Linked DNA regions of Homo sapiens: regions 1, 2, 3, 4 and 5 are each linked to region 6. Evidence: fine-mapped expression QTL. A gene starts in region 6. Each other region holds a variant in brackets. All regions are shown on one strand. Distances are between the middles of the regions. Region 1 has its middle 9.6 kb from the start of CCR3. Region 2 has its middle 57 kb from the start of XCR1. Region 3 has its middle 46 kb from the start of XCR1. Region 4 overlaps LOC105377067 (a long non-coding RNA gene). Region 5 has its middle 40 kb from the start of CCR3. Region 6 holds the start of CCR1 (C-C motif chemokine receptor 1).

Region 1 (4,109 bases), 24 kb before region 6:
GCTATGCATGGGCGTGAGCCCTCCACCTGGTGAGTGGACCTGGTCAACTCCATCCTCACCACTCACTGTAGCCTTAGAATTCCCCAGAAGTGATTTAAACAACCAAAGAGCTTCATTTCTTCATAAAACAAGCTAAATGCTGGTGATGGTGGTGGAAGGAAAGCCATAATAAAGAAATCTTAAAAAGCAGTGGTTCTGGGGCAGAAAACATAAATTTGGGATAAATTATCGACAGGAATATGGAATTCAGCAGTGACTCAGATCTTCATGGGAGTGACTCTACTGTGTGTTCCACATAAAAACAAGGGAAATCAGGGGGTATTTTGTGGGGTGCTCCAGTTAGGGCAATGAGTGCTCATCAATTGCAAGACTAAGCTTTATAGAATGTTAAAACGAGGCTTAATTTATGTGAGGATAAGCACAACCACATAAATTCTTGGTAGAAATATGGCTCCAGATAACATCTGGAGCCCAAGTGGACTCTGAAAGGGTATGTGGTCACTCTGGGAGATCTTGGATCTGATGTTTCACAGATGTCAAGGATCTCCCCTGGGCTTTCTTGGGTATCAAGAGCCCTCAGGCCTTTCAGGTTGAAGCTTCTCATGAACTACCCATTGATTAAACCAATGAATCCATCCCAATACATTTAATGTCTCTTAGGATAAAAGCATGCACTGTTAGAAAACACTCCTGGAGATTCACAGTGCATTAAAGGCCCCTGAGAAGTCCTGTAGTGATGAATCTGTTTGAAACCTTCCTAATCCAGCATTTCTCAAACCTATCTTTAACTTAGAAAAAAAATACTTTTCAAATGACAAGTGTTAACATCTCTCAAGGTCAGGATGCCTCAGGAGCACTCTGAGCAGTGCCGGCCTGATGCATGCACAGGCACTACAAGGGCATACTGCCCCCTGTCCATTGTCTTACCTTGACGGGGTATCCATTGCAGCCCAGGAGGTGGCAGGATGCTCTTGCAACCCTGCTACCTTACCCCTGTGTTGCAGATGGGGAAGCTGAGACTCAATGAGGGACTTGGCAAAAGCCACAGAGAGTGAAGGGCAGAGCTGGCTCTACCCCAGAGCTTGGGCTAGCCACATGGTGCTCTGTTTTCCGGCATGGTACTGCCGTCTGAAGAAGAGTTGCCTGTTGCCCTTCAGCCAAAGGTGAGGATGGCATCAAACCTGAAGGAAACCAGAACACAAAGTGGTTTCCCCAAGGTCCAGAATGGCTCGTTCTGTCCTGGCTTTTCCTACCACGGGAAAGAAATTTTTGATGCTTCTTTTGGGGTTCTTAGCTCACAGGAAAAACAGAGGTGTGTGGGAAAACCCAACCAAACACAAATGTCTTCCAATCTCCCAGATTCTCACTGCCACATTACACTGAAGCAGACACATTTCTGGGGGGCGGGAAAAAAGAGCCAAAACAACAACAACACACGCAGAAGATAGCTTAGGAGTATGGGAACATGGGAGGGGAAAAGCAAAGAACCTCAGAAATAGGAAAGGGTCAGCAATATTTTGCAGGAGAGCATAGGTCAAGCCACAACCTTGAGCATGTGAACGGAAACGATTGCCAGAGCAGCAGGGAGAAGTGCAAAGCTTCCTTTAATGCACCCACCTTCCTTCCCGGGCACCAGGGCCAGAAATGTGGGGCTCCAGCCAGACTTGTGTTTAC[T/C]GTCACTTTTCTAGTGAAGTTAGTGGAAGGACTTTTGTAGCCAGCAGGGCCCCTCTCTAGCACGTTGGCAATCCTGTGTATTTCTGTGTTCCCTCCACTGACAGCACGTCACCCTCCTGTGAAAGCTTTACAAAAAGGACTATGGGCCGGGTGCAGTGGCTCACGCCAGTAATCCCAGCACTTTGGGAGGCTGAGACACGTGGATCACGAGGTCAGGAGTTCGAGACCAGCCTGGCCAACATGGTGAAACCCCGTCTCTACGAAAAATACAAAAATTAGCCAGGCGTGGTGGCGTGTGCCTATAATCCCAGCTACTCGGGAGACTGAGGCAGGAGAATTGCTTGAAATCAGGAAGTAGAGGTTGCAGTGAGCCGAGATTGTGCCACTGCACTCCAGCCTGGGCAACAGAGCAAGACTTCATCTAGAAAAACACAAAAAAGGATTATTCCCCTGATAGATAGCCTATTCTACAAAAGAGACAGGAGTGAGAACGTGGAAGCTGTGCTATTGGGGGAGGTGGTGGGCCACCTGTGATTTCAAGATAACAGGTGAACAAGAGTCTAGCATTGATCTGGGCCTTGATATTTACCATCAGTGCAACATCACATCCAGAATGGCACCAAGGATGGGGCAAACCACCGGTGCAGCCATGAACATGCCCCTCCCACTCCAGAAAGCCTAAGACCCCTCTGCAGGCTCTGAAATCAATGTTGTGCTTCCAATGACTGAGCACACAGGGATACTGAGGCAGGCCCAATCCCTAGAGATGCACTGACATTAGCTTAAGGACCCCCACGTGGCTATGCCAAACCTTCCTCAGGCTGCAGAACAGTCTAGGATGCGTCTACTACCGCTTGGTTCCCCTGCTACCTCACTGGGGTTCTGCCGGCTTTCCCAGCCCTTCCTGCTCCAGCCCACTTTCCCTCCCAGGTGCTTTTCCAACAAAATCTTTCCCTGTGTAAAACCTGCTTGGTGGCTGCTTTTAGAGATCTGGACAGACGTAACCTTCATGTTCAAATTAGCTTCAACATATTCCTTCAGGGCATTCCCGTGAGGGATTGTGTTGTTGCTTGTTCCTCTAACCATTCTGTGTGTTTCATTTTGCTCATTTTCATTTTTTTATAAGAACATCAAAAATCTAGTATCAAACTCAGTAAATAAATATGACGATGAAGAAAAAAATTGAACAATGATTTAGAAATTATGCAGAAAATACATTTTTCTCCCCAGGATATGGAAAATACTTCCTAATTAAATGCAAAAACAATGCACTTCCAATAAACAGGAACAAATTCATATAATGTTACCCAAGTAAAATATGTGAAGTTCTTATTTCCATGGTACCTCACACTGTCACATGGGCCCCTGGAAATGCAAGAGAGACATTGGGGCAGGGAAAGAGATGGGATAGATCAATAGATCTTGTTTCTCCTGAAACAAGATAAGAGGGGTGGATGAATAATGGATCTTTTTTAAAAACCACTTTATTGAAGTATAATATACAAAAAGCTGTGCATATTTAATCTATACAACTTGATGAGTTTGGAGAGAAATATACCCCTGTGAAACCCTCATCATAATCTATACCATAAACACAACTATCACTTCAAAAGTTTCCTCCTGTCCTATTTATCAAGATTATTACTTTAACGTAAGATCTACCCTCTTGGCACATTTTTAAGTATACGATGCAGTGTTGTTAGCTAGAGGCACCATGCTGTTCAGTACATCTCTAGGACTTATTCATCTTCTGTAACTGAAACTTTGTGCTCGTTGACTAATACAGATAGATAGATAATAGATATTGAAGCTAACCGCTCCTTTTCCTACAAGTAACAACCAGAAATATTTCTTATTGTGGGAAGATGTAATCTCTGCTTTGTTCACACCTGAGTAATAAAGTGTTTTGGAGCCTTCTATAAACTGCAGTGGCGATCAGGATTCTCAGAAAGTCATGTAGGGAGGGGTGCACAGCCCATTTCCATATGGAGTGCTGTTTTGCATCTCATCCACAAGATTAATCTGGGCACTTTTAAAACTTGTCAAAATCTGGGCCTGGCACAGTGGCTTATGCCTGTAATCCCAGCACTCTGGGAGGCCAAGGAGGGCAGATCATGAGGTTAAGAGATCGAGACTATCCTGGCCAACATGGTGAAACCCCTTCTCTACTAAAAATACAAAAATTAGCTGGGTGTGATGGTGTGTGCCTGTAATCCCAGCTACTCGGGAGGCTGAGGCAAGAGAATCGTTTGAACCCGGGAGGCAGAGGTTGCAGTGAGCCAAGATCGCGCCACTGCACTCCAGCCTGGACGACAGAGCGAGACACCTTCAAAAACACAAACAAAAAACAAAACAAACAAAAAACGGATCAAAATCTGTTTTGAGCAGCACAAATCCTGAATGAATAAAAACATGTGCCTAGGTCCCTGCCCTGG
Region 2 (4,109 bases), 120 kb after region 6:
CAGCCGCTAGTCATGGGCAGCTGGGAGGAGTATGAGAAAGCTCCAGAACCTCTAAGCAAGGCAGCACCCATCAGCTATGGTAGTGAGTCCCAAACATGTCTGTCTAAGGGCAACTCTTGGGCTTCAGAAATGCTGATGTCAGATCCCAACCTCAGAGATTGTGATTTCCTTGGCCTGTGGTGGGGCCTGGCTTTGGACATTTTAATATATCCCCAGGTGACTGGAATGTGCAGACGGGCTTGAGCCATCCTCCAGAGAAGAGTGCAGGTATGAGAAGTTAGCAGCCAGGACTCTTAGCACCTAAGGCATGGGTGCACCAGCAGGTAGAGGCATGGGAGAGCATTACAGTAACTGCTATGTCACAAGACATCACACTGCTCAGACTCTGTTGTGCCCAAGAATCTGCTGGGTCAGGGGAGTGTCCTACTAAAATGCAGAGTCTGATTCAGCATGTCTGGGTTGGGCCCAGAACTGCATTTCTAACAAGCTCCCAGATGCTGCTGTCACACCAAGGACTACACCAAGTAAGGAGGCCCTACACCAAGGTTGACCACTGTAGATCTGTAGCTCAAGAGGGAGGTTTGGACTGAATGTATGGGGTTGGGGGTGCCGGCATTATGCATGATTGTTGAGACATGGAAGTGAGTGGGAGTATTGGGGAACAGTGCACAGGCAGATCAGTGAGCCAGGCCAAGGCCAGACTCCTGACCTTGGGAGTGAAAACTGATGGCAGGCTTGCTGCTGGAAGGAGAGTGAACGTGGCCTATTCTTTCAAGAAATTTGCTGTGAAGGGGAGGGGCAGACAGGATGGAGTGCAAACTCAAAGTGTTTAAAATGGAGAAAAAAATACTTGGACCACAATACAGGCTGCAGAACAATTGTCATGATAAGATCGAAAGCATCAGAGGAATTCAAGAGGCTGGTTAGGAATAAAGACTGAAGCCAGCTTTGATGCTCCCTGGCTGCATGACTTTGGCCAAGTTACTTGCCTCCTTGTGCCTCAGTTCCCTAATCTGTATAGATGTAGATCACATTAGTACCTGCCTCTTGTGTTCGCGGTGTGATGAGTTGTGTTTGCGGTGATGGAACCTTTTTTTTTTTTTTTTAATAATATATGTCAAATGCTTAGAGCAGACATAGGCTGCTCCATGTATTAGCTATCATGATTACAGGAACTCCTTAAGAGGGGCAAGGTTTTCTGCAAGTGCTGTCCACCTAAAATGAAGAAGCTGAGCACAAAATGTAATTTTAAAGACTTTACTTGAGCCAATGTGAGGCCAGCTGCCCAGGACACCCTTCCAAGTTGCCTTGGGGAGTACTCCATCCAGCTTTTGTTGCATTCAGGCTTTAAAAAAAAAATCCAACTTTTATTTTAGATTCGGGAGGTACCATATGCACATTTGTTACATGGGTATATTGCAAGATGCTGAGGTTTGGGGTATGACTGATGCCATCGCCCAGGTAGTGAGCATAGTACCCAATAAGATAGTTGTTCAATTCTTACCCCACTCCTTTCTTCCACCCTCTAGTAGCCCCCAGTGTCTACGGTTTCCGTCTTTATGTCTT[T/G]GTGTGCCCAGTGTTTAGCTCTTGCTTATAAGCGTGTACATTCAGTATTTGGTTTTCTTTTCCTGCATTAATTCGCCTAGGATAATGGCCTCCAGCTACATCTGTACAAGTGGATTTTTAAAGACAAAAAGAAAGCAAGGAGTGAGCTGATAAAAAGTTGGCAGGAATTCTCATTGGTTTATAGAAATTACATTGATTAGGGATTGGCTTTACATTGTTGAGCTGGAGGATATGAGTTATGGCGTCCAGTGCATGGCATTTTATAGCTACTTGGCATCAGTTAGTCTAGAGTCCACATAGCAAGTGGCTTCAAGAGGTAATTACTTAGCTCAAGGGAGGCATGAGATGTGATAGCTTTTCATTCCAATGCTTTTCTGGGACTGATAATTTAAAAGGGCTCACATTCCTATGATTAAAAGTTTCCTTTTGCTCTCATTTCCTTCCTTTTGATCACAAATTTTTCTCCTCAAAAGCACTGATGATACAAATCTGAGTGCCAGCTTGTCCCTTGTCACCAGGAAGGCTCATTCCTGGGTAGCCCTGTCCCACATGGGGGAGTGGAGACATCTCAGTGAGGAATTTTAAGAGCACCAAAAAGCTGAATCAGGATGACAATACAGAATGGCAAAAGTGAGTCCACAAAGTATTGACTTACATAGCTGCTGTTGTTTGCTCCATCATCGCCAGTCTCTGGAATACCATGATTTTCATTTTCTCAGAAGAAATAAAACAATGAAAGATATCTAGCATTAATTGGAATAATAGAAATATATAATGCACATAGGATTAGAACCAAAAAGAGAATTTTTATGCCAGAATGAAAAAGGAATCTAGTCTGTTAAGAGTCAACTAAAAACCTCCTGAAGAAAATTAAATCTCAGTTTTTCTTTAGAGACCTGTAGTCAAGCAGCTTCTTCCCTGATTTTTCCTAGGTGAGTTTCTACTTCATGGGAAATACTTATGTATATACAACAAGAGGTATTTGCCACCACATATCCACCTCCTTGCTCAGCTAATATAGAATCTAAAGCAATGTGATTGTCTAGCACAACCTTAGTCAGTAAATCTGTAGCTTTTTGTTGAGCTGTGATGGAGACAGCAGTTTCATCAGCAATGTTTCCTAGGGTTTTAGAAGGATTTTAGATCATGTGTTCATGGGAAGTTACATCCAACAAAGGCAAAAGTATTCTCAAAGAAAAAAAAATGCATGGAGCTATCTTCTTGATGGCCAGCCAGATAATTAGCACATTTTCTCTAAATAGAATCTCCATCTAAGGTAGATCTGCAGTCATGCCTAGAGAAAAGTTTGAGGGAACTAGTCCAGTGCTGAGTTTCTTCAGAGCTGTATATAGAGAGAAGGGTAACGAAATATCCTAAGACATATTGCCCTTCAACATTCCATGCTCTTAGACACTTACAGGACCATGGCTGGTGATTTTCTCCACAGACTATAATAAATCCTGGTGGAGCACAGATAAGTACACTATAATTTAAGAACATCAGTTTTGAGGCATTACTGGATCAATGGGTCAGAAATGTTAAAGCAAGAAGACAGGATCCTGATAGCTGGAGGGGCTGTTTTCTTTGGATTTTCTAACAACATCATGGATTTTAGTACTGTCATTAGTGAGTAACGCAGCAGTGATTTTTGACAAAAGAATTCTGATGAGTTACATTGAAACATAGGACAAACAGGTTAGGATGAGTCAGGCAGACCTGATTAACAGGTTTGCTTTTATGTGGCCCTGAGTTGTGTTACAAGTGCTATCATGAACACTGGTGAAATTTAGGGCAGAATGTACCAGTGGGTCATTGTGGTCAAAAGTAGTTTTTGGTTTAGGGTAGCAAACCCAGCATCTCTTCAGATTTCCAGCAGTGGCAATGGTGTGTGGGATTCTGATCAGAGAATTATCCCTCCATGCTACAGTCAAATTTATCAGGGACGGCAAAAACAGAAACCTAGGCCAGGTGCAGTGGCTAATGCCTGTAATCCCAGCACTTTGAGAGGCCGAGGTGGGAGAATTACTTAAGGCCAGGAGTTTGAGACCAGTGTGGTCAACATAGCAAGACCCTTCTCTACAATTTTTTTTTTAATTAGCTGGGTGTGGTGGTGCACTTCTGTTGCCCCAGCTACTCGGGAAGCTGAGTCGGGAGGATTGCTTGAGCCCAGGAGTTGGAGGCCGCAGTGAGTTATGATCATGTTACTACATTCCAGCATGGGCAACAGAGCAAAACCCCATCTCTAAAAAAAGGAAAAAAAAAAAAAAAAAAAAAAGGAGCCTGATTATAGGCATTTGTTTACATATATCCTAAGAGAATATATGTGTGTGTGTGTGTGTGTGTATGCATGTATATATGCACATATAAATATATATATGATGATTTTACCAAAACAATTTTATCCAAGAGAGGATACTCACAGTATGGAGGCCTAACGCCATAAGTATTCCAGTCAATAGAAAAAGGAGAGCAAATATTTCAGGTGTGGTAGGCATTAGAATCATGAAGAACAAGTTATACAGGCTTGGTCTGGTATCTTGGGT
Region 3 (4,109 bases), 130 kb after region 6:
ATTTGCCATTTGAAAAATCCTCTTCCATGAAATGTCTCTTCAAGTCATTTCCTATTTTTTAACTGAATTGGTTGTTTTTTGTTTGTTTGTTTTGTTTTCTTTTTAAATGTTGAATTTTGAGGATTCTATATATATTTTAGACATGAGCTATTTGTCTGATATGTGGTTGGAAAATATTTTCTCCCATTCTGGAGATGGTCTTAACAGGGCCTTTTGCAGGGCAAATGTTTTTCATTTTAATAGTTTATCTATTCTTTCTTTTATGTATTATATTTTTGGTGTTATGTCCAAGAACTCTTCACCAAGATTTAGGTCTCAAAGATTTTCTCTTATGTTTTCTTCTTAAAGTTTTATAGTTTATCCATTACATTTATATCAATGATCCAATTTGAGTTAATTTGTGTATAAGGTCAAAGGTTTAGATTGAGGTTTCTTGGTTTTGATTTTTGTTGTTTTTTTTTTTTTTTTTTTTTTGGTCTATGAGCATCTAGTTGCTCTAGCACTATTTGTTGAAAAGACTATCCTTCCCTCATTGACTTGCTTTGGCACCACTGTCAAAAACCAGTGGGCCATACTTGTGTGGGGCTACTTCTGGGTTTTTTTAACTCTCTTCCATTAATCTTTGTGTCTGTCCCTCTGCCAATATCACATATTACTATAGCTATGAAATAAGTCTTAAAATTGGGTAGAGTGATTCTTCCCATTTCATTCCTTTTCAAAGTGCTAATTATTCTTTAAATATTTGAAATAGTTTCCAGTTAAACTCTCTGGGCCTGGAAATTTTTTTCTTGGGAGATTTTAATTATGAATTCAATGTCCTTAGTAGTTACAGGGCTATTCAAATTATCTGTTTCATAGATGAGTTATAGTAGTCTGTGCTTTTTGAAGAGTGGGTTTATCTCATCTAAGTTGACAAGTTTTATGTGTGTAGAGTTGTTCACAGTACAGTTGATTCTTGAACAACATGGGTTTAAACTGGGAAGGTCCACTTAAATCCAAAATTTCGTCTACCTTTGCCACCCCTGAAACAGTAAGACCAACCCCTCCTCTTCCTCTTCCTCCTTTAGCCTACTCAGTGTGAAGACAATGAGGATGAAAGCCTTTATGATGACCTACTTCCACATAATGAATAGTAAATATATTTTTCTTCCTTATGATTTTTTTTAAAATATAAATTTAAGTGGTACAATTGCATTGTTACATGGATATATTACATAATGATGACGTCTTGGCTTCTAGTGTATCTATCACCCAAATAATGTACATTGTACCCATTAAATAATTTCTCATCCTTCACCCCCCACCACTACCTCCCGTTCTTCTGAGTCTCCAGTGTGTATTACTCCACATTCTATGTCCATGTGTATACATTATTTAGCTCCCACTTATGAAGGAGAACGTGCAGTATTTGACTTTCTGTTTCTGAGTTGTTTTACTTAAGATAATGACCTCTATCACTTGAGCCTTGGGGGTTGAGGCTGCAATGAGTCATGATTGTGCCATTGCACTCTAGCCTGGGCAACAGAAAAGAGACCCTGTCTCAAAAAAAAAAAAAAAAA[AAAAAAAAAG/G]ATGGCCTTCAGTTCCATTCGTGTTGCTGCTTTATGGCTGAATAATAATTCCATTGCATATATATTGTAAATTGTGCTGTGATAAACATGCATGTGCAAGTTATCTCTGATATAACTATTTTCTTTTCCTTTGGGTAGATACCCAGTAGTGGGGTTGCTGGATTCAATGGTAGTTCTACTTTTAGTTCTTTGAGAAATCTCCATATTATTTTCCAAAGAGGTTGTACTAATTTACATTCCCACCAACAATGTATAAGAGTTCCCTTTTCTTCACATCTTCACCAGTATCTGTTGGGTTTTTTTTTTTTAATTGCCATTCTGATTGGTGTAAGATGGTATCATGTTCTGGTTTTCATCTGCATTTCTCTGATGATTTGTAATAATGAGCATTTTTTCATATGCTTTTTGGTCATTTGTATATCTTCTTTTAAAATGTCTATTCATGTCCTTTGCCCACTTTTTAATGGGGTTATTTGTATTTTGTTGTTGTTGAGTTGTTTGAATTCCTTGTAAATTCTGGATATTAGTCCCCTGTCAGATGCATAAGTCGCAAATATTTTCTCCCATTCTGCAGGCTCTCTGTCCACTCTGTTGTTTATTTCTGTTGTTTTTGTTTTTTGTTTTTTGTTTAAGAATCTCACTCTGTCTCTCAGGATGAAGTACAGTGGCATGATCTCAGCTCACTGCAACCTCCGGCTCTCAGGCTTCAAGCAATTCTCATGCCTCAGCCTCCCAAGTAGCTGGGATTACAGGTGTGTGCCACCATGCCCAGCTAATATTTTAGTAGAGATGGGATTTTGCCATGTTGGCCAAGCTGGTCTGGAACTCCAGGCCTCAAGTGATCTGCCCGCCTCAGCCTCCCAAAGTGTTGGGATTATAGATGTGAACCACTGCACCCAGCATCTGTTATTTATTTCTTTTGGTGTGCAGAAGAGTTTAACTAAGTCCCACTTGTCTATTTTTGTCTTTGTCATATGTACTTTTGAGATATTAGTCATTAATTCTTTGCCTATACCAATGTCTCGTTTTTCCTAGGTTTTCTTCTAGTATTTTTATAGTTTTGAGTCTTATATTTAAGTCTTGAATCTATCTTGAGTTGATTTTTTTATGTGGTGAGAGATATGGTTCCAATTTCATTCTTCTGCATATCGCAATTCAATTTTTCCAGCACCATTTATTGAACAGGGTATCTTTTCCCCAGTGTGTGTTTTTGTCAGCTCTGTCAAAGATCAATTGTCTCTAAATATGTGGTTTTATTTCTGGGTTCTCTATTCTGTCATACTGATCTATATGTCTACCTTTATACTAGTACCATGCTGTTTTGGTTACTATAGCCTTGTAGTATAATTTGAACTCAGATAATGTGATGCCTCCAGCTTTGTTCATTTTGCTTAGGAATACTTTAGCTATTCAGGCTCTTTTTTGGTTGCATACAAATTTTAGAATTTGTTTCTAATTCCAATAAATTATCAACATCATTTTTCTAATGATAGGAATTGCATTGAATCTGTAGATTTCTGTGGGCAGTATGGTCATTTTGACAATATTAATTCTTCTGATCCATGAACATGAGATATTTGTCCTTTTATTTGGGTCATCTATAATTTCTTTCATCAGTGTTTTGCTGCTTTTCTTGTAGAGCTCTTTCACCTCCTTGGTTAAATTTATTTCCAGGATTTTTTGTTTTGTTTTTATTTGTTTTATTTTCACTGAGACAAGGTCCCTCTCAGCCACCCAAGCTGGAGTACATTGGTACGATGTCTGCCTCCCAGACTCAAGCAATCTTCCCACCTCAGCCTCCCAAGTAACTGGGACTCTAGGTGTGCACCACCATGCCCAGCTAATTTTTTGTATTTTTTGTAGAAACAGGATTTCACCATGTTGCCCAGGCTGGTCTCGAACTGCTGGGCTCAAGCGATCTGCCCACCTCAGCCTCCCAAGATGCTGGGATTACAGGCATGAGCCACCATACCCAGCCTAAGGTGGTTTGTTGTTGTTGTTGTTTTAATTTTAGTTATTGTAAATGGGATTGCTGTCTTGATTTGGTTCTCAGCTTGATCATTATTGGTTTATAGAAATGCTACTGATTTTTGTCTGTTGATTTTGTATCCTGAAACTTTACTGAATTCATTTATTAAATCTAAAGGATTTAGTATTTTCTAGATATAAGATCATAACCTCAGCAAGCAGAAATAATTTTACTACCTCTTTTCCAATGTGGATTTTTAAAATTTGTTTCTCTTGCCTCATTCCTCTGGCTAGGACTTCCAGTATTATGTTAAATAGGAGTGGTAAATGTGGACATTCTTGACTTGTTCCAGTTCTTGGAGGGAATGCTTTCAACTTTCCACCGTTCAGTATGAGGTTGGCTATGGGTTTGTCATATATGGGGCTTTATTATTTTATGGTATGTTCCTTCTGTGCCTAGTTTGTTGAGTGTTTTTATCATGAGGTGATGCTGAATTTTATCAGATGGTTTTTCTATATCTATTGAGATGATCATATGGCTTATGTCCTTAGTTCTGTTTATGTGGTGAATCA
Region 4 (4,109 bases), 42 kb after region 6:
AGAAAAAGGACAGGCCACCTACAAATAGAAGCCCATCAGACTAACAGCAGAACTCTCAGCAGGAACCCTATAAGCCAGAAAAGATTGGGTGCCTATATTCAACATTCTTAAAGCAAAGAAATTATAACCAAGATTTTTTCACATCTGGCCAAAATAGTTTCATAAGCAAAGAAGAAATAAGACTCCTTTCACACAAACAAATGCTAAAGGAATTTGTTACCAGCATACCAGCCTTACCAGAGATCCTGAAAGAAGCACTAAATATGGAAAGAAAAGACCATTACCAGCCACTGCAAAAATACTTAAGTACATGGACCAGTGACTGTAAAGCAACCACACAAAGAAGTCTGCATAGTAACCAGCTAACAACATGATAACAGGATCAAACCACACGTATCAATGATTTACCTTGAATGTTAATGGGCTAAATGCCCCAGTTAAAAGGCACAGAGTGGCAACCTGGATAAGAAGCTAGACCCAATAGTATGCTGTCTTCAAGAGACCCAACTCTTGTGCAATGACACCCATAGTCTCAAAATAAAAGGATGGAGAAAAACCTACCAAGCAAATGGAAAACACAAAAAAGCAGGGGTTGCAATTCTAATTTCAGACAAAGCAGACTTTAAACCAACAAAGAACAAAAAAGACAAAGAAGGGGCCTGGCGCGGTGGCTCACACCTGTAATCCCAGCACTTTGGGAGGCCAAGGTGGGCAGATCACAAGGTCAGGAGCTCGAGACCACCCTGGCTAACACAGTGAAACCCTGTCTCTACTAAAAATACAGAAAAATTAGCTGAGTGTGGTGGCGGGCCCCTGTAGTCCCAGATACTCAGGAGGCTGAGGAAGGAGAATGGCAGGAACCTGGGAGGCAGAGCTTGCAGTGAGCCGAGATCACGCCACCGCACTCCAGCCTGGGTGACAGAGTGAGATCCATCTCAAAACAAAACAAAGACAAAGAAGGGCATTACATAATGGTAAAGGGTTCAATTAAACAAGAAGATCTAACTATCCTAACTCTGTAAGCACCCAACACAGGTGTGCCCAGATTCATAAAGCAATTTCTTAGAGACTTACAAAGAGACTGAGATTTATACACAATAAAATGGGACACTTCAAACCCCACTGACAGTATTAGACAGATTATCAAACCAAAAAATTCACAAAGAGATTCCAGACCTGAACTTAATGCTTGAACAAATGGACCTAATAGACATATACAAAACTCTCCACCAAAGGCAATAGAGTATGCATTCTTTTCATTGCCACATGGTACGTACTCTAAAATTGACCATTCAGTTGGACATAAAACAATCCTCAGCAAACTCAAAAAAAATTTAAATCATACTAACTATACTCTCGAACCACAGCACAATAAAAGTAGAAATTGAGGCCAAGAAAATTGCTCAAAACCATACAATTACATGGAAACTGAACAACTTGCTCCTGAATGACTCTTGGGTAAGTAATAAAATTCAGGCAGAAATCAAGAGGTTATTTTAAACTAATGAAAACAAAGACACAACACACGAGAATCTCTGGGACACAGCTAAGGCATTGTTAAGAGGGAATTTTGTAGCACTAAATGCCCACATCAAAAATCTAGAAAGATCTCAAATAACAACCTAACATCACAACTAGAAGAACTAGAGAACCAAGAGCAAACAAACCCCAAACTAGCAGAAGACAAGAAATAACCAAAATCAGAGGCAAACTGAAAGAGATAGAGACATGAAAAAGCATACAAAAGATTAACAAATCCAGGAATTTGTTCTTGAAAAAATTAATAAGATAGACCACTAGCTAGATTAATAAAGAAGAAAAGAGAGAAGATTCAAATAAACACAATCAGAAATGACAAAGAGGATGTTATCACTGACCTTGCAGAAATACAAATAACCGTAAGAGACTACTATGAACACCTTTATGTACACAAACTAGAAAATCTAAAATAAATAGATAAATTCCTGGACACATGCATCCTCCCAACAGTGAGTCAAGAATAAGTCCCTGAACAGACAAATAACGAGCTTGGAAATTATCAGTAATAAATAGCCTACCAACAAAAAAAGCCAAGGACCAGAAGGATTCACAGCTGAATTCTACCAGATGCACAAAGAAGAGCTGGTACTATTTCTACTGAAATTATTCCAAAAATTTGAAAAGGAGGGATTCCTCCCTAACTCATTCTATGAGGCCAGCATCATCCTGATACCAAAACCTGACATAGACACACATACACAAAAGGAAACTTTAGGC[C/T]AATATCCTTGATGACCCATAGATTCAAAAATCCTCAACAAAATACTAGCAAACAGAATCCAGCAGCACATCAAAAACCTAATCCACAATGATCAAAGTAGGCTTTATCCCTGGGATTCATGGTTGGTTCAACATGTACACATCAATAAATGTGATTCATCACATAACCAAACCAAAGACCAAAACACATGATTATCGCAATCGATGCAGAAAAGGCTTTCAATAAAATTCAACATTGCTTCATGTTAAAAACCCTCAATAAACTAAGCCTTAAAGGAACATACCTCAAAATAATAAGAGCTATCTATGACAAACCCGTAGCCAACATTATACTAAATGGGCAAAAGCTGAAGGCATTCCCCTTGAAAACCAGCAGAAGAAAATGATGCCCACTCTTACCACTCCTATTGAACATAGAATTGGAAGTTCTGGCCAAAGCAATCAGGCAAGAGAAACAAAAGGCATCCAAATAGGAAGAGAGGAAGTCAAACCATCCCTGTTTGCAGATGACATGATTCTATATCTACAAAACCCCAGAATCTCCACCCAAAAGCTCCTTGAGCTGATAAGCAACTTTAGCAAAGTTTGGGGATACAAATCAATGTACAAAAATCAGTAGCATTCCTATACTCTAAGAGCACCCAAACCAAGAGCCAAATCAGGAACATGATCCCATTCACGACTGCCACAAAAAGAATAAAATACTTAGGAATACAGCTAACCAAGAAGGTGAAAGATCTCTACAATGAGAATTACAAAACACGTTCAAAGAAGTCAAAGATGACACAAACAAATGGAAGAACATTCCATGCTCATGGGTAGGAAGAATCAATATTGTTAAAATGGCCATGCTGCCCAAAGCAATTTATAGATTCAATGCCATTCCTATCAAACTACCAATGACATTCCTCACAGAACAGAAAAAACTATTCTAAAATTTATATAAAACCTGAAAAAGAGCCCAAATAACCAAAGCAATCCTAAGCAAAAAGAACAAAGCTGGAGGAATCACATTACCCAACTTCAAACCATACTACAAGGCTACAGTAACCAAAACAGTATGGTACTGGTACAAAAACAGACACATAGACCAATGGAACAGAATAGGCAGCCCAGAAATAGAGCCATACACCTACAACTATCTGATCTTTGACAAAGCTGACAAAAATAAGCGATGGGGAAAAGACTCCCTATTCAATAAATGGGGCAGGGATAACTGGCTAGCAATATACAAAAGATTGGAACTGGTCCCCTTCCTTATACCATATACAAAAATCAACTCAAGATGGATTAAAGACCTAAATGTAAAACCTAAAACTATAAAAACCCTGGAATAAACCAAGAATATATCATTTTGGATACAGAATCTGGCAAAGATTTCATAATGAAAATGCCAAAAGCAATTGCAACAAAAGCAAAAATTTACAAATGGGACCTCATTAAACTAAAGAGTTTCTGCACAGCAAAAGAAACTATCAATAGAGTAAATAGGAAACCTACAGAATGAGAGAAAATATTTGCAAATTATACATCTGACAAAGGTCTAATATCCAGAATCTACAAGGAACTTAAACAAATGTACAAGCAAAAAACAACCCGATTAAGAAGTGGGCAAAGGATATGAACAGATACTTTTCAAAAGAAGACATATATGTGGCCAAAAAGCATGTGAAAAGATGCTCAATATCACTGATAATTAGAGAAATGCAAATCAAATCCACAATGAGATACCATCTCACACCAGTCAGAATGGCTATTTTAAAAGGTCAAATAATAACAGATGCCGGAGAGGTTGTGGAGAAAAAGGAACCTTTATACACTGCTGTGGGAGTGTAAATTAGTTCAACCATTGT
Region 5 (4,109 bases), 74 kb before region 6:
CTAACATTGGACCATTCAACATTTCCCAAAATGTGTAGTTGGTTGGCCTCTAGTTTAGTATTGCTCTAATAATCTGATAATATTCTAGCATCTATAATGGGAAGTGTTTTCTCTGTGTTTGGTTACTAAGGAGTGAATGGCCAAGTTTGTGTTTATGTCTTTCAATTGTCAGTGTCTGGTACACAGTAAGGAATTGTGTTTATAGTTTAATCATACTCTTCTATTCTTATTTTATTATATTTTTGCTCTTACTTCTTCACCTAATAACATCAAGTTTTTAAAAGTTATCAAGTTACAGGCCAGTTGAGGTGGCTCATGCCTTGTAGTCCTGCACTTTGGGAGGCCAAAGCAGGTGGATTACATGAGTCCTAGAGTTTGAGACCAGCCTGGGCAACATGGCAAAACCCTGTCTCTATAAAAAAATACAAAAATTAGCCAGACATGGTGGTGTGCGCCTGTAGTCCCAGCTACTTGGGAGTCTGAAGCAGGAGAATTGCTTGAGCCTGGGAGGTTGAGGCTGCAGTGAGCCATGATCATGACACTGCACTCCAGCCTGAGTGACAGAGCGAGACCCCGTCCAAAAAGAAAAAGTTATCAAGATGTAATAGTGCATAGTTAAGAAATTAGAAATAGCATTTCCTGCCCCATCCCCTCCCCACCCCTGCCCACTCCTATGAGGCAACCACTTTCAACTCTGTTGGCTGTTTCTCTGGTGCTGCCCTAAGTGTTAAGTAACATGCTTATATTGATTGCTACTTCATAATGTATCAATTTTAGACAGAATTTATTGATTTCCTGTTCTTGTAGGTGAGGATTTAGCTTACACTTCCTTCCCCTCCCAACATCCTCTCAATATGGTTTTTTGACAGTTTCTGGTTAAATGACTAGTCAGTGTTCATGTTATTATGACCACATAAGTATTATTCACTGTTGAGCTAATGTTTTATATTCTTGGAGTTAATAGTAGTTTCTTTTGATTTTTTCCATCTGCTTACTTTGTAAAAATACTTATCACCAATTTCCAAAATGCTCAAATTTGATCTGTCATGGGCCCAACAATAATTTTTTAAAATATTCGAAACCTACAAATTTCATGTCCTTTCTCAATACCAGTCTGGACAGGCTTCTGTGGAGGTCCTGGAGATTCCTTTGCCACTGTCCTGTGTTGAACTCATTTCTAAGATCCTAGGATCTCCTCTTTCTTGGTTACCTCTTCATTTTGCTAAAGCATATATTTTGTCTCTTCTTGAGAATGGGTAAATGGAAGGTAAATTGCAAAATCCTTCTGTGTCTAAAAATATCTATATTCAAGCCTCAGTGGATCTCATACGTTGGCTCTGTAGAGATTTCTGGGCTGAACATAATATTTTCTCAAAACTGTGATGCTGTTGCCCCACAGTCTTGTATCAGCCAATGTTGTCATTGAGAATCTGATGTCAAGTCCATTTCTATTCCTTTCTGTTACCTGTTTTTCCCCCTCTTAAAAGCTCTCAATATATTTATCCCTGTTGTTCTGAAAGTTCATAATGATGTGCTCGGAAGAGGGTCTGTGTCCATTTATCCTGGTGGGTACTTGGTACCCCCTTCATCTCACAGACCTGTGTACTTCCATTCTGGGAGTTTTTCCTGAATCACAACAGCAACAACAACAACTACTATTACTGCTACTACTGCTATTACTGCTGCTGCTACTACTACTACTGGGTATTCTACTTTGCGATGACACCCGTTTTTGCTATTCTTGAACTCCTTGAGTCAAATTTTGGATACAAGCCTGGACAGGAGCATGGCAGCAGCCCCTTGGAGGGCGAAGAAATGCTACATCCCTTTCAGCAAAAAAATAAGTCCTGGGTTGTTACTGGACTCCAGGGGACTCTGAGAGTTTGACTATGAGACACCAGCTTACCATGACACTCAGGTTGTTTATTATGAACTGACTGCCACCTGACCTACTTTGCCACAGAGAGACCCAATAACACTGCATCATAAAGGGGAAGTGGGATTATATAGGATGTAATCCACACAGGTTCGAAAGGCAGCATGGGCAGGTTATTCATGCCTATCCCATCCCTAGTCCCAACAACTGCCATCCTCTCCCTTCACCTGGACCTGTGGCCTCCCAGGAAGTTGGCTGCGATGATCTGTCTGAGGATGAAAACACTCATGCCTGTCTTATGGATAGAGGACTCTGCACTTTGCTTGCACCAACCTGAGGTAGATTGTGTTAGATTCAGCCCCTCTCAGGGGTAGCCCTAAAGGACAAGTGGAGAAGACACCTCCCAGGTGGCAGAAATCAAGGTGTTTATCATAGTGTCCTCTTTGCTTCGAAGGAGAGATCACCAAGGGTCAGAATCTACACATATTTCTAGAAAGTGTTTATTATATATGGTTAGATGTAAGGGAAGACAGAAGGAATTAAATGGAAAATTGTTATCAAGATTTGGAGGAGTATGTCAATGGATTT[A/C]TTTGAATGAGACCCAAACCTAAAAATGTTCATATCTCATGTGAATTCTCACCAAAATGCCCCCCAGGATGGAAGAAACTTGGAAAATAGCACATGCTGGGTCACCCTTCCTATGGCAGCCAGATGATTTCTCAGAGGCTCATGAACAGCGTAAACAGTGGCACAGGGAAGGAGACCAGGCATGGACTCCACACACTGAGGCTATCTGCTTTCACTGGACCTCACCTCTTGCCTGAAGTTGGAGACTCTGATATTTTCTCCGGCTTTATCTTTCACTCTCTGTCAGCCGTGTGTTTTATCAAGACATTGAAGGTTTTTGTTATTCCCGTTTCCCAGGTCCTCTCAGCACAATATTAACCATGTGGACCAAAGTGATGTCCTGTCAGGTGATGCAGTCACAAGGTCCCTGCAGATTACAGTGAGGCAAATCACCTGAAAGTAGCATCACTCCCAGGCAGGATGGCAGCGTGTACTCTGCTCCTGACAGCTGGAGACAAACTGCTTCTTTGGGTGCCTCTCTGTACCAAAAGGGAGAAAACTGTATTTTCCTGATCTGAAGTTAGCAAACTCCAGTGTGTAGGTGCCTGTGTTTGAAAACTAGTTTTACTGGAACACAGCTGTGCCCATGCACTGACATGTTGTCTGTGGCTGCTTTCTTGCTACAACTTCAGAGTTGAGTAGTTGTGACAGAGACCAGCTGGCTTGAAAGCCTAAAATACTTACTATCTGGCCCTTTAGGAAAAAGCTTGCCAGCCCCTACTCTAGACTGGCATCTACATGCCAAATACCATGACTGTAATGATTTGCCTCAGCAAGGGGACCAAACTTAGAAGACAACACACACAGTGAAAGTCACCATCTGATTTAGTCGTAACATTCCATGGCTATTCCCCAAGACCCATCAATTTATTTTATTTTATTATTTTTTAAATTTTTTTACTGGCAAAACTGGAGCATTAAAAGGAGGTATGACAGGAATCAACATATCTGTGTCTTTCTTATCTGTGATGAGACTAATCTGCTATTTTCTTCATAGGATAGAGCGTTGTTTTTGATTTTCTGCTTTGTATGGGCAGGGGGCCTTCAGTGGCTTCCACTTGGGCCTTCCTCTGTTGTAGCCATTATTTACTGTCTGAAAGCCTAATGGGAATCCCATTCTTTTTTTTTTTTTTTTTTTTTTTGAGATGGAGTCTTGCTCTGTTGCCCAGGCTGGAGTGCAGTGGCGCGACCTTGGCTCACTGCAACCTCTGCCTCCCAGGTTCAAGCGATTCTTCTGCCTCAGCCTCCCGGGTAGCTGGGACTACAGGCCGGCACCATCATGCCTGGATAATTTTTGTATTTTTTTTTTTTTTTTAGTAGTTATGGGGTTTCACCATATTGGCCAGGCTGGTCTCGAACTTCTGACCTCATGATCTGCCCGCCTCGGCCTCCCAAAATGCTGAGATTACAGGCGTGAGCCATTGCGCCCGGCCTACTAAGTATGTTCATTCTAACACTGCACTGGAGACTGGTGAAAATCACAAGGTGGGTTCTGGGCCAAATTCTGCCTACGATGATACAAAGTCACATCAAAACTCTATCACCTAGCACTTTGGGAGGCCAAGTGGGTTGTTTGCTTGAGTCCAGGAGTTTGAGACCAGCCTGG
Region 6 (4,000 bases):
GGCCAGGGTCCATGAGCTCTGCAGGTGTTAAAGACAGAGTCATCCACATCCACCACTGGCAGGGTCCCCTGCATCTCTTCCCTGAACATTGGTGCCAAGGCTGGGGTGGAAGGCTGTCTCAGGACAGGGTTTGGCTTAGTGCTGGGCTTCCACTGCAACCTCTCTGGGGCAAAGGAAGCTGCCCACATCTCCCCCTTCTCTCCAAGGAAGAGGAACATTGATGTGGATCAAGGACAATACGGCAACCTTGAGAGAACACTACAGCTTTTAAGGAGAGGAGTCAAAGGGCTTTTAAGAGAAATGAATGGAGCAAGGTCATCCCTCTTTGCTGGTTTCTCTCTTGTCTCTCTGTGCTGCCCCCATTGTACACATCTGCTGTGGTGAGAGGGGTGTGTGCACTAAGGGGTTTGCAAGGCCATAGGAGACCTGAGTGTGGGTGTGGGAGGGGAGACAGAGCAGGCAACTGAGCAGCCTCTTGTTTAGGCCTTGAGCTAAAGAGAGAAAGAAGGCTTCCTAGCTCATAGCTGGTCCAGCCTAACTCTTCTGAAGAAAGATCACATGGGACTCTGAGCCAAAAGCATTGAGAAAATCTAGATCCATGCCCCCCAAATTTAAGCATGCATCAGAATCATGCCAGTCTTTGTCAAAACCTGGATTGCTTGGCCGCATCCCCAGGATTTCTGAGTCAGTATATCTGGCATGTAACCCCAGAACTTGCATGGCTAGCAATGTCCCAGGGAATGTGAATGCTGCTGGTCCAGGGACCTCACTTTGAGAACCACTGCTCTAAAGGACTTCCTCACCCCTTCCCACCCTCGATGCACCCTTCCTTAGCCCAGGGTATTTCCCAGGCCACTACAAAAGCTGTTCCTCATTGTGGTAACTTGGTTAATTGTTTGTGATCCTTCCTAAGCTATAAGCTCTCAAAGAATGGATCCAGCCTCTTTCTTCACCACTATATCCCAAGCACCTAACACAATGTCCGGCACATTGTGAGTACTGAATAAATATTTGTTCAATGAACAAGCAGATTTGCCTGGTACATCCCCTCTGTGGAATGAAACCTAGAGCAGAGCTGGAAGCCTGGTCAAGGATGAGGTACTGACCATGTCCCTTACTTTAGACAGGATCAAGGAAAAGGCAGGCCTCACAAGCCTCTGTTCTCTTTGGAAACTGATCCACCAGCAAAGTACTGCAAATAGCCAGGCACATGCAGACCCCCATTTATTTCTTTGGGGTGAAGCTGAGTGATGATCAGATGTCAAGCTTAGGCCATCTTGTCTGAATTCTTCATTTTACAGATAAGAAAACTGAACCATGAAGAGACAAGTGATCTTTTCAAAGCACATTCACACTGATGATTTCTGAAACAGTGCTTTGTAGCAATGCCGTGAGGAAGGTTAGGGGTGTCCCCACTTTATAGAAGACACAAGGGCAGAGGCAGAGTAGGTGTTGGCAGTTGTGAGGAGAGTCACAGTACTCATCATTTGTCAGACATTTTTCACTGTGCCAGGCACTCTGACATTTTTCATGTACAAGTTGACTTCGTGCTTCTCCTCTGAGGTAAGCATTCAATACTCCCATTTAGCAGAGTAGGAACCAAGACTTAGAAAGGTGAGTGATCTGCCCATGTCACAGGTGGAGAGCTGGGATTTGAACTTGGCCCATGTTTGACCATCACGTAAAACAGGAATGGGGCATCAGAAAGGGAAGGTCAAAATGTAACCAACAGACCTATATTCCCTTCATGCTGGAGGTTCCTGGGGCAAAGCCACTCTCTGAGGTTTGGTGGGGAGGGACTTGGGGAGCAGAGAGCAGAGGGACAATGAGCTCCCAGAAGCCGAGGGGCATAGGGTGCCAAAGAGAAGCTGCTGCCTCTGTGAGCACCCATGTCAGTTAGTTTTGAGGAACAGGACTCAGGGTTCCAGTTTAAATCCTTCCATTCACAATCTTTAAGAAGAAGAAAAAAAAGAAGTCTGCCGCTGACCACAAGAGCTCTATGCCCTGCCCCCATCCCACATACACACATCCCACACTTCAATTGCTCCAAACATTCTGGGAACATCTCACTGCCACCCACCTCACCCAACTCAGCTTCACCTGCCCCCAATTCCCTTAAGGCTGAGCTCCCAGGGCCAAGACTCAAGAGGCTCAGAGTGAGCAGAGAAAATCCTCGCAGTTAACTTGGCTTCCAGGAAGTGGCCACTGGTGGGCGTTGTGGCCATTCATGAGCACCAAACCACACAAAAAGAAGAACTTTGTCCCTTTCTTGTCATTTTGAAAGACTGTGAAACTGGAGCCAATTCTCCATCATCACACAGGAAGCTGAGTACTTCCTACTTGGTCAGGATCTTGAAACTTGAATTCATAAAAACCCAGAAAGCCCCAGAAACAAAGACTTCACGGACAAAGTCCCTTGGAACCAGAGTAAGTGTCACTTGTCTTTTCTGTCTTATCTGTTACTGTGGAGGGCAGTGTTGTTCAAAGACATGCATGCAGCTAGGGGCTCCTCAAAGGTAGGGGGAATTCTTTGAGTAGGCTGGGCAAATGTCTAAGTAGCCCATGGATGCATCTCCAAGGCAATTAATACTGTAGCAATACTGAGAATGGTGGATTTATAAAGCTGGGTGCTCAGATGAAATATAGGCTTTTTTGCTAAAAAGGAAGCTTACTTGAAGGATTGGCTTTTGGTTACTGATTAAGAAAGTCAGTCAGTACTAAGGGACAAAAGGTGTTTTCTGTGGAAACCTATTCAATAAGAAATTACTTGGCGGGGCGCAGTGGCTCACGGCTGTAATCCCAGCACTTTGGGAGACCGAGGCAGGTGGATCATGAGGTCAAGAGATGGAGACAATCCTGGCCATATGGTGAAACCCTGTCTCTACTAAAAATAAAAATTAGCCGGGCATGGTGGCGCATGCCTGTAGTCCCAGCTACTCAAGAGGCTGAGGCAGGAGAATCACTCGAATCCGGGAGGTGGAGGTTGCAGTGAGCTGAGATTGCACCACTACACTCCAGCCTGGCGACAGAGCAAGAGTCTGTCTGAAAAAAAAAAAAAAATTGCTTGCCAAATTCCCCCATGTAAAGGAAAACCAAACATGGTGTATGAAGAAATTATAGCAAGAGGGAAATATTAGCTAGAAAAATCTTGGCAGATGCAAGGATGATTTGATACTGAACCTATCTCTTAAGAAGACTAGAACCAAGGATCCTCAAAATTGGCACTGCTATCTTTGGAAGAGGTAGGCTTTCACTCACCCAAAGGCAAGGAGCTGGCCAGGTGATCTTGGGGGGCATCTGTTCTGCTCTACTAACAAAGACACAGGTCAGGATTTTGTTCTGAAGATAGAGGGGCATGGTGGCTCCGTATAGGTATCTACTTCATAGGTGGTCTTGGTGGGTCCCAGATTTCAAAGAAGAGATGGAAACTCCCAAAAGTTTGCACAACCTGGCACCAGGCTATGTGCCACTCACTGATCCTTTAGTTCCCGCACCGAGCAGTGGGACAGTGCTGGACTGTTCAGAATGTGGGGCCTGGGCAGTGATGTGCTGGTAAATGTTCAACAACTGACTCTTCTGAAGAAAAGATCCCTGCTTTATAACATTTGTTGATTTTCATGGTATAAATGCCCCCACTGTGGTCAGTTTCAAGCTACCAACATGCTGAATGTGGAGTGGGGAAGAGATGCACGCAATTGGCATTTATAAACCAGTATAAGCCAGCCAGCGCACCATAGGCCTGGGTGTCTTTCACCATCACAGACTGCTCTATCTCTGCTCAGAGACTTCACCAACTCCCAGGCTGGAGGACACTAGCAGTGGAGGGTCCAGGATCCAGGGCTATAGCTGACCACTGTGCAGTGGCCTTGAGGCAGACTTCTGCAGTAGACTACAGCAGGGCTGGCAGATTAGATGACAACATGGTCCTTTGGTTTCTCTTCTCGGGCCCCACCCCAGATCACCTCCCTTTAGGAACAGCATGCCTTGGAGTGGTTGCCTG

Evidence for each region. PIP is the estimated chance that this variant, and not a neighbour inherited with it, causes the effect.
Region 1: its variant is the best candidate, but not a certain one, in a credible set for the expression of CCR1 in whole blood (INTERVAL, PIP 0.90).
Region 2: its variant is the best candidate, but not a certain one, in a credible set for the expression of CCR1 in whole blood (TOPMed, PIP 0.82).
Region 3: its variant is the best candidate, but not a certain one, in a credible set for the expression of CCR1 in whole blood (INTERVAL, PIP 0.75).
Region 4: its variant is the best candidate, but not a certain one, in a credible set for the expression of CCR1 in whole blood (INTERVAL, PIP 0.78).
Region 5: its variant is the best candidate, but not a certain one, in a credible set for the expression of CCR1 in whole blood (TOPMed, PIP 0.64).

Annotation. Positions count from the first base shown.
Region 1 is chr3:46,230,840-46,234,948 of GRCh38, reverse strand. It overlaps a transcript of CCR3 not described here. Among named protein-coding and RNA genes, the nearest start is that of CCR3, 9.6 kb to the left of the region's middle. The variant T/C (reference allele first, on the strand shown) is at 1,675.
Region 2 is chr3:46,082,209-46,086,317 of GRCh38, reverse strand. It overlaps a transcript of XCR1 not described here. Among named protein-coding and RNA genes, the nearest start is that of XCR1, 57 kb to the right of the region's middle. The variant T/G (reference allele first, on the strand shown) is at 1,567.
Region 3 is chr3:46,071,674-46,075,782 of GRCh38, reverse strand. It overlaps a transcript of XCR1 not described here. Among named protein-coding and RNA genes, the nearest start is that of XCR1, 46 kb to the right of the region's middle. The variant AAAAAAAAAG/G (reference allele first, on the strand shown) is at 1,560.
Region 4 is chr3:46,164,966-46,169,074 of GRCh38, reverse strand. The region is part of intron 1 of LOC105377067 (a long non-coding RNA gene); the gene reads right to left. Among named protein-coding and RNA genes, the nearest start is that of CCR1, 41 kb to the left of the region's middle. The variant C/T (reference allele first, on the strand shown) is at 2,257.
Region 5 is chr3:46,280,804-46,284,912 of GRCh38, reverse strand. No RefSeq gene overlaps it. Among named protein-coding and RNA genes, the nearest start is that of CCR3, 40 kb to the right of the region's middle. The variant A/C (reference allele first, on the strand shown) is at 2,465.
Region 6 is chr3:46,206,709-46,210,708 of GRCh38, reverse strand. It overlaps CCR1 (C-C motif chemokine receptor 1), which reads left to right and starts at 2,396. Exons shown (of 2, transcript NM_001295.3): 1 at 2,396-2,427. It also overlaps a transcript of CCR3 not described here.